3 linked regions of the Homo sapiens genome follow. The protein of the gene in region 2 purifies or fractionates together with the protein of the main gene of each other region. This does not show direct contact. Each region holds a gene or a part of one and is shown on either strand. Other genes may lie near its edges.

Region 1 (3,653 bases), on a different chromosome or scaffold from region 2:
ATGTAGAATGCTACTGGTGAAGTAGTTGAGGACTGCCCAGGCACAGTGAGGTAGAAGAGTGCTCAGATAAGGATCATAGAGGAAGTCAGACTCTGACTGAGTTTGAAGCTTGTGGGAAGCCTTTCGAGACCATAAGGAAAGAACTAACACTGCTTTTCTAGCCACAACGTCAAATGCCTAAGGCATTGCTACATTTGTTAGGGGTGAAGAGAGTTGGTTTCCCCTGGGTGTGTCCAGGTAGGGCCACAGAGGGAGAGGTTTGCATTTGCAGATGTCTCAGGGTTCTCTGCATCAGGGCGGTCAATACTCTCTCCCTGACACTGCCTGTTTCCTCTTGCTCCCCAGGCTGGCTGAGCACCTGCGGAGGATCAGAGCGGCTGTGGTGCTCCAGAAACATTACCGCATGCAGAGGGCCCGCCAGGCCTACCAGAGGGTCCGCAGAGCTGCCGTTGTTATCCAGGCCTTCACCCGGGCCATGTTTGTGCGGAGAACCTACCGCCAGGTGAGTAGCCACTCTGAGGGCCTCAGGGCTGCAGATTCAGAACTAAAGTGGCAACAGATGAATTACTGCCAACGTGAACCTCTGTCAAGCACTCCCAACTTTTTTCTAAATGCTTTCACATCTCTGCTCTCACCAAATCCTTTCTGAAGTCCCACAAGGTAGGAAGGGTGTGCATACTGTTGTCTTAGTCCATTAAATGTTGCTATAACAATATCTGAGGCTGGGTGATTTATGAAGAAAAGAGGTTTATTTGGCTCACAATTCTGGTGGCCAGAAAGTTCACAATTGAACATCTGCTTCTGGAGAGGGCCTCAGGCTGCTTCCACTCATGGTGGGAGGTGGAAGCCGGTGTGTGCAGAGGTCGCATGGTGAGAGAGGAAGCACAAGAGTGGCTCTTTTAACAAGCAGCTCTAATGAGAACTAACAGTGAGAAATCACCCTTGAAGAAGGGCATTTATTTGTTCATGAGGGATCTGCCTCTATGACTCAAACATCTCCTGTTAGACTCCATCTCCAACATAGGGGATCAGATTTCAACATGAGTTTTGAAGGGGCCCAGCATCCAATCATGGCAGTTTTCACACCCCTTCTGATACCTGAGTTGCTCAGAGAAGCCAGGTCACCTGCCTGAGGGCCCAGGCCAGCCAACAGCAGGGCCAGGTGACCCACCTAGGGCTCATTCACACTTGAGGGCAGGCGGTGGTATTGGGCATCATCAGGTCTAACTCCTCCACTTAACGGATCAGGAGCTTGAAGCCCAACATGGTGAGGTCAGGAGGGAGGCCCCGACCTCTTCCCTGCCAGGTTCTTGCTCTTTGTGTTGTTCCAGTGAAGCCAAAACCCTTGGGTTCAGGAGCCCCACATCAGGACACATCTGTTCAACCAGGTAACACCAACACATCTGAAGCACAGAGCTGACTTGAAACACGAATTGGAAGGAAATGTCTAAAATGGTTTTCTTTTTCATTAAATGAACATCTGTCTCTTCTATGATCACAGAAGGTGTGATTTTCTAAATAATAAAAGTAAAGCACGAAATTGATAATAATAAAAATGTGGTCAGGGTGGAGCACACCCTGGTGTAGTATGTAGAGAAACCCAGGCCATTGGGAGAAGGTTCTGTGAGTGTTCTTGGGTGATGGGTGGCGTTGGTGTGCTGCTCCCATGGAAGGGGCAGGTGATGTTTGGGAGTTTCTCAGCAGGGGCAGCATGTGCAAAGAGTGAGCACTGATGTGGCTCCCAGCTCTGTCACTCATGGCTGTGGCACTGTTCATTGCTCAGCCTGTTTGCTTGTTTACTCATTTATTCCACAAACATTTATTTTACCAGGTATTAGGGCGAGCACACTGATGATGCTTTCATATCCTGAGTGGTTTTTTAACTTGGTAGAAAAAAAAAAACAGTGAATTACACACCAAGTTTGTAATTATAAGCCATTAGCCTGCTGTGGACACTCACTGAAGTATCTCACTTCCAGCTCAGTGCCACCAGGAGGGGACCTCCACCTGGTAAATGGGTAGAGAGCAAGTGGATGATCATTAGGCCCCTACAACCTTGAGGTTTTCAGACTGTGGTTTCCTAACCCATAAAACAAAAAGTAAAACAAAGCTGAAAAGAGTTTGACAGCTGATTCCCTGTGGATATGTAGGCGCAGAACCTCGCTGAAATGTGTTATAAAACAACCACCAAAGCCTTAGATCTTAGGGGGCACATTGTCTGTGTAACTCCTAGAACCAAGGCTGCCCTGGCCTCTTCCCTCCACAGGCAGTGATGTATGCTTCCTTCACTCCTGTCCTGCAGTGCAAACCCACAAGATGTGTATCCTTGTTTCCCGCCAGGTCCTCATGGAGCACAAGGCCACCACCATCCAGAAGCACGTGCGGGGCTGGATGGCACGCAGGCACTTCCAGCGGCTGCGGGATGCAGCCATTGTCATCCAGTGTGCCTTCCGGATGCTCAAGGCCAGGCGGGAGCTGAAGGCCCTCAGGATTGAGGCCCGCTCAGCAGAGCATCTGAAACGTCTCAACGTGGGCATGGAGAACAAGGTGGTCCAGCTGCAGCGGAAGATCGATGAGCAGGTCAGTGTCTGCAGCTCCCTACCTGGGTGTCGGGGGCTTGGGTACTGGAGCATTTTGAGAGAGCCCACAGCTTCCTTGAGGAACTGCACATGCCGAAGACCCGAGGGAGCACAGACGTCCTCAGACCACAGCAGATACTAACTGTGGCAGGCAGATCAGTGACCCCTAAAGATACCCTCAGCCCTGGGATCTGTGAGTGTGTTACCTTATATGGCAAAAGGGACTTTGCAGATGCAATTAAATTAAGAACTGTAGGATGGGAAGAGTATCCTGGGTGAGCCAGGTGAGCTTGATATAACAGGGGTCCTCCTAAGAGGGAGGCTGGAGGATCAAGTTCAGAGAAGAAGTGATGACAGAATCAGAGGTGGGAGGGATGCAGGCAGCCTTGAGAAGCCAGAGAAGACGAAGACATGGACTCTCCCCTAGAGCGTCCAGAAAGAATGCAGCCGTGCCAACCCCTTCAGACTCCTGACCTCCAGAGCTGTAAGATAATGATTTATGCTATCTTGAGTCATAACTTGGTGGTAACTTGTTGCAGCAGCAATAGGAAACTGACACACTAGCCCAAGGTGCTGGTGTTTTGCCCTTGCAGGGGTGACATAGGGTAATGCAGCAGCAGCTGGTGTGCATGGAGGGCTTGCTGTGTGGGGTATGGGGCTGGCGCTTTGACTGGAGTAGCTTGTCTAATATAGCGGCCCTCCTACGGCAAGTATTACCATCCCCCTTTTTGTACAATTGAAGACACTGGAAGGGCACATGGCATCCTAAAGTCACACAGGTGGCAGTGGCAGGGCCGAGGTTTGAACCCCAGCTGTCTGGCTCCAGAGCCCATGCTCTGCATCACTTTGCCCTTCTGTCTCTCTGTCTGCCTATCTGTCTGTCTGCCTCTTTTGGAAAGAGTGTTTGCTTTGGAAATCAGAATTCAGTTCTTCTGCTTAAAAGTTGAGTGGCTGATGTGACTACTCTGAACCTCTTTTCTTATCCATAAAATGGGGCTGACAGGGCTGAAAGAAGAATAAATGGTCTAATGCATATGCAGGGCCTGGTATGCAGTAGGAGAAACTTGAAAAATG
Region 2 (3,653 bases):
GTCTGTAGGGTTTTCAAGAAATAGAATCATAATCAGTAAAGAGAGAATTTAACTTCTTCTTTTCCTACTTGTAGGCCTTTTATTTCTTTCTCTTGCCCAATTGCTCTGGACTTCCACTATGATGTTGAATAGGAGCGGTGAGTGGGCATCCTTGTCTTGTTACAGTTTTCAAGGCAATTGAAAAGTGTATTTCTAGGAATTTATCCATTTCCTCTAGATTTTCTAGTTTGTGTGCATAGGGATGTTCATAATAGTCTTTAAGGATCTTCTGTATTTCTGTGAGCTCAATTGTAATGTCTTCTTTGTCATTTCTGATTGTGCTTATTTGGATTTTCTTTTTTGTTGTTGTTGTTGTTAATCTAGCTAATGGTTTATGGATCTTCTTTATCCTTTCAAAAAACCAACTTTTGGTTTCATTGATTCTTTGTATGAATTTTTGGGTCTCAATTTCATTCAGTTCTGCTCTGATTTTAGTTATTTCTTTTACTATACTAGCTTTGAGGTTAGTTTGTTCCTGTTTTTCTAGTTCCTCTAGGTGTGATGTTACTTTGTCAATTTGAGATCTTTCTAACTTTTTGAGGTAGGCATTTCGTGCTATAAACTTTCCTTGTAATATTGCTTTTGCTACATCCTAGAGATTTTGGTATGTTGTGTCTTTGTTTTCATTTATTTCAAAGAATGTTTTTACTTTTGCCGTAATTTTGTTGTTTACCCAAAAGTAATTCAGGAGTGAGTTGTTTAATTTCATGTAATTGTGTGATTTTGAGACATCTTCTTGGTGTTGATTTCTATTTTTGTTCCACTGTGGTCCAAGAGTATGATTGATATAATTTCTATTTTTTTTAATTTATTGAGATTTGCTTTATGACTGAGCATGTGGTTGATCTTGGAGTATGTTCTGTGTGCAGATGAAAGGAATGTATATTCTATGGTCAATGGGTGGAGTATTCAGTAGATGTCTGTTATGTCCAATTGTCAAGTGTTGAATTTGAGTCCAGAATATCTTTGTTAGTTTTCTGCCTCGAAGATCTGTCTAACGTTGTTAGTGAGTTGTTGAAGTCCCCCATTATTATTGTGTGTTGTTGCTAAGTCTTTTCATAGGTCTAGAAGTACTTGTTTTGTGAACCTGGGTGCTCCAGTGTTGGGTGTGTATATATTTAGAATGGTTAAGTCTTCTTGTTGTAGTCACCCCTTTACTATTATGTAATGCCCTTCTTTGTTCTTTTTTTTTTTTTCACTATTGTTGGTTTGTGGTATGTTTTACCTGATATGAGAATAGTGACCCCTGCTCTTTTTTATGTTCCATTTGTGTAATAGATCTTTCTTCAGCCCTTTACTTTGAGCCTATGGGTGTTGTTACATATGAGAGGGGTCTCTTGAAGACAGCAGATGAGTGGCTCTTATTTTTTATCCAAATTGCCACTCTATGTCTTTCAAGTGGGGCACTTAGATCATTTACATTCAAGGTTAATATTGATATGTGAGGTTTTGATCTTTTCGTGAAGCTGTTAGCTGGTTACTTTGTAGTTTCTATTGTGTGCTTGCTTTATAGGGTCTGTTGGCTATTTACAAGTGTGTTTTTGTGGTAGCAGGTATCATTCTTTTGTTTCCATGTTTAGAGTCCCTTAAGGATCTCTTGTAAGTATGGTCTAATGGTAATAAATTCCCTTAGCACTTGCTTGTCTGGAAAAGATTTTATTTCTCCTTTGTTTACAAAGCTTAGTTTGGTGGGATATGAAGCTCTTGGTTGGAATTTCTTTCTTTAAGAATGCTGAAAATAGGCCCTCAATCTCTTCTGGCTTGCAATATTTCTGCTGAGAAGTCTGCTGTTAGCCTGATGGGGTTCCATTTGTATGTGTTCTGACCTTTTTCTCTAGCTGCCTTTAAGACTTTTTTCTTTGGCATTGACCTTGGACAGTTTGGTGACTATATACCTTGGTGAAGTTCATTTTGTATGGTATCTCACAGGTGTTCTCTGGATTTCTTGTATCTGTATATCCACCTTCTACCTTGCTTTCATTTTCAGAGAGGGCCCTAGACCATTGACCCTGGGATCCTCCCATTCAGAGAAGCCCCAGATCAGTCACTCTGGGCTTTTGTCTCCATTTTGGTGCTGGTAATATGCAGAGTTTCCCAGAAAGTTATGCTGAAGTGAAGGATGATGATGACTTGATGGATGAAAAACTCACTGTTGCAGACATGTTCACAGACATCTGGGAACATTTTTTCCCCTCTATGCTCCTAGGCCAGTGTTGAACTTCTGTTATAACACTGAGCTATAATCTATTCTGAATCATGATTACTGTTTCAGTACCCTTTTTTTTTCTAACTTGTGGGCAGTGTAAGGATAGCAATCACAGGTTCTTCACTTCTGTACTCCTTGATAATCTCAATAATGATGTTGATCAGAGGAATGATAATAACAAACATTTATTCACTGTGTGCTCTGTTCCAGGGACTGCTTTAAGTACTTTGCAAGGTACTTAAATCTCTAAATAATCCTATAAGGAAGAATCTATTATATTCCCATTTACAGATGAGAAAAGCAAGACAAAGGGAGATTAAATAGGTTGGGATTCAAAGTTTACAATCTTATCTGTACATCAGACAAGGTTCTCTAGTGTCAAGTGTAATAAAATAATTTTAAAGACTGAAGATCCCTAGCAATGAGCAAACTGAAGCTACAAGAGATTATGTGACTTAATGTTACATGATAAATTAATTAATTTAACCAATATCTATTGAGTTACCATTAATATTTATTACAGTCCTTGCTTTATAATCCACAGTTCTTTCTACTTTACTACTCAGCCCTACATAGCTGATAAAGCAATGGGTCGGTCTACTCAGAATCCCTCATGTTCCAGCCATTAATTTACTGTTGCTTGTCTCCAAACCTACTCTTCTATTTACTATTTTTTGTGATGCTGGGGCTAGGACTGAGCAGATCACATCTCTTCTTTGCCAGTGAATCCTGTTAGGTTCTGCCAAGAGGAGTTACTGGAGAGAGCCAGCAAGGTTGGAGGAGGAGAAGGGAGGGAGAAGCCCATGCTTTTCAGCTTCCTCTTTCTGTCAGAGTCTCCATTTATTTCTGGGAGCAGCAGCTGAATCCAGTTTGCTATTTTGTCAATACTCACAGGACCACTTCATCATACCCACGCAGAGAGGCCAGCACATAGCAGGAACTCTGCTTTAGAGGCTGGATCCCAGCCAACCTGAGCTTGGACCCTGGCACCAGCTGAGCATCACTTTCACCGACATTCAGCTCTGCAGGGTCCCTCATCTACAGAGCCCCTAAGTTTGTAAGTTTTAATAATTCCAACCTCTTCCCTTTGTTCCTCCTGCCCTAGGAGTAGTAGCTGCCTCTTGAAGGTAGAACCTCCTAGTATATTTTGCCTTTCCAGTTCTTTACTACATAGTACTTCCTTAAATTCTCTCTGTTAAAATAACTGGTTTGGTGTGGGCACCAAAGAAGCCACCCCCACACTGTTCTGTCTGGCTTAGGTAACTACAAGCAAGGGTGATGAAGTCCGAGTCCTTTGATAAAGCTCTCACAATGAGAGATGCCACCACGATATCTCCCCAGTCCCTTTCTGTTCACTGAAAGATGATGATCCCTTGGGTTGGGCCAAGTTCCTTTGAGAAGAGGCTGT
Region 3 (3,653 bases), on a different chromosome or scaffold from region 2:
ACACTAATACTCCCAGACAGCAGAGAACTGAATAAACCATGTTATTGTGCAAGAGCGTGGTTTGCTCCAGTGCGTGCTGCCTTGGAGGTGGAAGTATGACGACGATGAACTTTTTGCAGTGGAGTCCATGTTAGATTGGAAGAGCCCCAGCGTCTGTCCATGTCCAGGCCTGGAATGCGGGTCCTCTGAGTGCCCTGGCTCCCCAGGGCCTGGCCCTGCCTTTAGACCCCTCACTCTCAAACACCTTCTCAGTACCTTGCTCCCAACTGTGGTCCGGAAATGCTTGCTGTTTGGCTTGATGACTTGCTTTGCAGATTTAACTGTAATCATTGAACCAAAAGGAGAAGGAGGAGTTGGATTTTCTTGAAAAAAGTTGGCACAGAGATGAAACTGGAAGGAACAGAGAGGATCTCAATGTCCAAAAGCAACTGCCCACAGTACTCACTCATACAAGCCACGTAAATGGTGACAACAACTCAGCTAAACTAGTGGGCGGTGAACAACCTCACCAACATCTACAGCCAAATCTCAATTCCACAAGACGATCGTCTTTCATAGGGATGGCCCGTGACTTCTTTCCCGAGAAGGGGAACAGAGAAGAAAAGTGTGTAAATGTCTGTATGTGGGTATCACTCTAAGTGTCAGAAAGTGGAAACATCTACTATTCTCACCTCCGTGCCTGGCTCACACTGTGTCTCCACCTGCAATCTCCTCCCTCCTACTCCACATTCTCATCCCTGCAGATCCAAACCCTACCCAGGAATCTCTTAAAATGTTTTCCAGCCCCACCCACTTCGCAATGAATGAATTAATCCCAACTTCTCTGAACCGTCTTCATCTTGTATTTGTACCTCATTTAAAGCACTTACTACCTTCTGCTTTGTATCAGTTATTTCTTTAAATGTCTTATCTTCTCTCAGAGTGAATTTCATATTTTGTTTTGTTTTGTTTTGTTTTGAGACAGGGTCTTGCTCTGCTGCCCAGAAGAAGAGTGCAGTGGCGCAATCATGGCTCACTGCAGCCTCTATCTCCCAGGGCCAAGCAGTCTTCCCCACCTCAGCCTCCCAAGTAGCTGGGACTACAGGCATGTCACCATTCCCTGCTAATGTTTTTTTATATTTTTAGAAGAGACAGGGTCTTGCTTTTTTGGCCAGGCTGGTCTCAAACTTCTGGCCTCAAGCAATCCACCCGCCTCTGCCTCCCAAAATGCGGGGATTACAGGCGTGAGCCACCACGTCTGGCTGGAATTGTGATTCTTCAATGGTTCTATTAGCTGTCCTTCCTGTCATCTGCATGTTTGATTTCTGATTTTGCATATAGTAGAGATTTACAGTAGTTATCTTTTTGAATCTGTGAGCTACAACTTACCACTGTCCAGAGAGTTCACACACACACACACACACACTCTCTCTCTCTCTCTCCTTACTCTTTCCTTATATACATCTAGATCCATGTCAATTATATAATAACTTTAGTTACCCCTAGGACTTTACAGACCTTGCTTGCTCTCAGGATTTCAACCAGCATGTCATAGACGGTGTCTCTGTTTTTCTCCAGGAAACCTTCACATTTATACTCTACCTATACAGAGAAAGCAATTAATTATTCCCAAAGAGGCCAAAGAATATAGCCTCTAAGCACAAGTTTCATCTCTTTTTTAAGAAAGATTAATAAAAAAGGCTACAGAGGCAATCTTACAAAAAGACGTCTGGCTTCTGTGCATCATGGCAGCAGCCCCATTATGTATAAGCTGGGAATGTGTCTTCTCTCCCACCACCTGGGTTTCTCACCTGCCTGCTGATCACTCTGCACTCACCTGTTGGCTCCCTCTGGCCACAGGGGTCCAGTTGCTCCCTGCGGTATGTGCAGTTCCTACAAGAACACCTGACTTAGGTCTCCCTTTGCCTTTGAAGCCACCAGGAGGAGGAAAAAGCTTAGTGGTGTTCATTGGGTTCAAACAGACATCGTTTCCTAAATCAACATTAATGTGGTAGAAAGGATAGAAAAACCGACCAGCTGACCACCAAGCCTTCAAGAGCCACCAAGCCCTCAGAATCAGGTTTAGAGTGGGTCAACCTTTGCACTGCTTGAATCTAGCTTAGAAAAACTCTCCATGCTGCCCTTTCTGATGAAGAAGGCTTCTCGAATGCCTCAAACCATGGCATATCCAGGGTGGCTGCTTCAACATTCAACCTCCCCCTAGTTTATGCCTCTGGATTGCATATCTTAATATGTGATAATTTATTTTTCATAAATTAAAAACGTATATTAAAATTAATTTTAAAAATTGACAATGAGGAAACAGGGGAGAGTGCTGGAATCCGTAAGCAGAGGGTTCCCTGGGCATGGCCTCTGCTTTGTCCCCCAGGTAAGGAAGTATCCTTGCCGGTAGGTAGGTTAAGATCCAGGAACACCGGCTGTTTGCAAACACTTCTTTGTGAATGAAGTACCTGGATTGTTGTACAAATTCTTCCAGAATGGTGGTGTGAGCCACTAGGACAGATAGACAAAGGTGGCAAATACAGAGCTTTCCTGGTCTGGGCGAGCATCTGTGGGGACAGTGTCACATGCAGCTGGTGCCTCTGTTGGGGACTCTGGGACCAAAGGAAGATGTGCTGAGCTGCTACATCTAAGCTCAGCTGACTTGCATTCAATACGACCTGATTTCCCTGGCCAATGAGATTGAAAACCTAATCTAACCCCATAGTGCATGTGGGTTCTTCCCACCAATCAATCCATAGTCCAGCCCAAACGCTGCCTAGTTCTTTTAAGGGAGACTTCTTGGAAGTGGCAGGTGAGAGAATTACATGTCCAGAAACTACATCCTATAAAGAGAGACCCTTGAAAGAAATCCCATATGTGCTTTTTATGGAGTCTGGTCTTTCCCCCTCCCTTTTCCTATGGGACCAGAACCCTGAAATTATGACAATAGCTAGGAAATATAATTTGACATATGATCATTTCATTTCATAGGCATCTTTTCAGGAGCCCATCTGAAAAAGTCTAAGCACTAAAAACTTATCTTTTTTTTTTCTTTTTCTTTTTCTTTTTTTTTTTTGAGACAGGGTCTCACTCTGTCAGCCAGGCTGGAGTGCAGTGGCGTGATCTTGGCTCAATGCAACCTCCGCCTCCCAGGTTCCAGCAATTTTCCTGCCTCAGCCACCTGAGTAGCTGGGATTACAGGTGCGTGCCACCACGCCTGGCTTATTTTTGTATTTTTTAGTAAAGATGGGGTTTCGCCATGTTGGCCAGGCTGGTCTCAAACTCCTGGTCTCAAGCGATCCACCCGCCTCAGCCTCCCAAAGTGCTGGGATTACAGGTGTGAGCCACTGCACCCGGCCAATCCTATATTTTAATATTTTACAGTACTCTGCTAGCACACAAAGGTGATCACAGCTTTCCAGGTTGCTGTCCCCTCCCTCCACCATCAGTCACTCGGGAATGACCAGCTCTGACTCACAGCACCGGCCTCTGCGATAAACATAGACAAGCACAAGCCATTCCTGTGAGCCCTGGCACTGGGCTAGGCCACCAAGGCAACACCCAACCAGGACATGGGAGGAGGTAGGAGCTCCCTTAAGGAAGGAAAACAAATAAGAATGTACATTTAGGGCAGGTGGTTATGGCAATTTTTTCCTTCTGTTTTCTAAGCT

What was found.
Region 1: the proteins of CLIC5 (region 2) and MYO5B purify together in Homo sapiens (affinity purification with mass spectrometry; one large-scale study listed by BioGRID and IntAct). This does not show direct contact.
Region 3: the proteins of CLIC5 (region 2) and MYO5C purify together in Homo sapiens (affinity purification with mass spectrometry; one large-scale study listed by BioGRID and IntAct). This does not show direct contact.

What each region holds. Positions count from the first base shown.
Region 1 is NC_000018.10:49,901,521-49,905,173, reverse strand, and holds part of MYO5B (unconventional myosin-Vb), read left to right. Parts: intron 1-345; coding exon 346-502; intron 503-2,340; coding exon 2,341-2,580; intron 2,581-3,653. UniProt on the Homo sapiens protein: May be involved in vesicular trafficking via its association with the CART complex. The CART complex is necessary for efficient transferrin receptor recycling but not for EGFR degradation.
Region 2 is NC_000006.12:45,907,819-45,911,471, forward strand, and holds part of CLIC5 (chloride intracellular channel protein 5), read right to left. Parts: intron 1-3,653. UniProt on the Homo sapiens protein: In the soluble state, catalyzes glutaredoxin-like thiol disulfide exchange reactions with reduced glutathione as electron donor. Can insert into membranes and form non-selective ion channels almost equally permeable to Na(+), K(+) and Cl(-).
Region 3 is NC_000015.10:52,247,203-52,250,855, forward strand, and holds part of MYO5C (unconventional myosin-Vc), read right to left. Parts: intron 1,582-3,653; coding exon 1,498-1,581; intron 391-1,497; coding exon 256-390; intron 1-255. UniProt on the Homo sapiens protein: May be involved in transferrin trafficking. Likely to power actin-based membrane trafficking in many physiologically crucial tissues.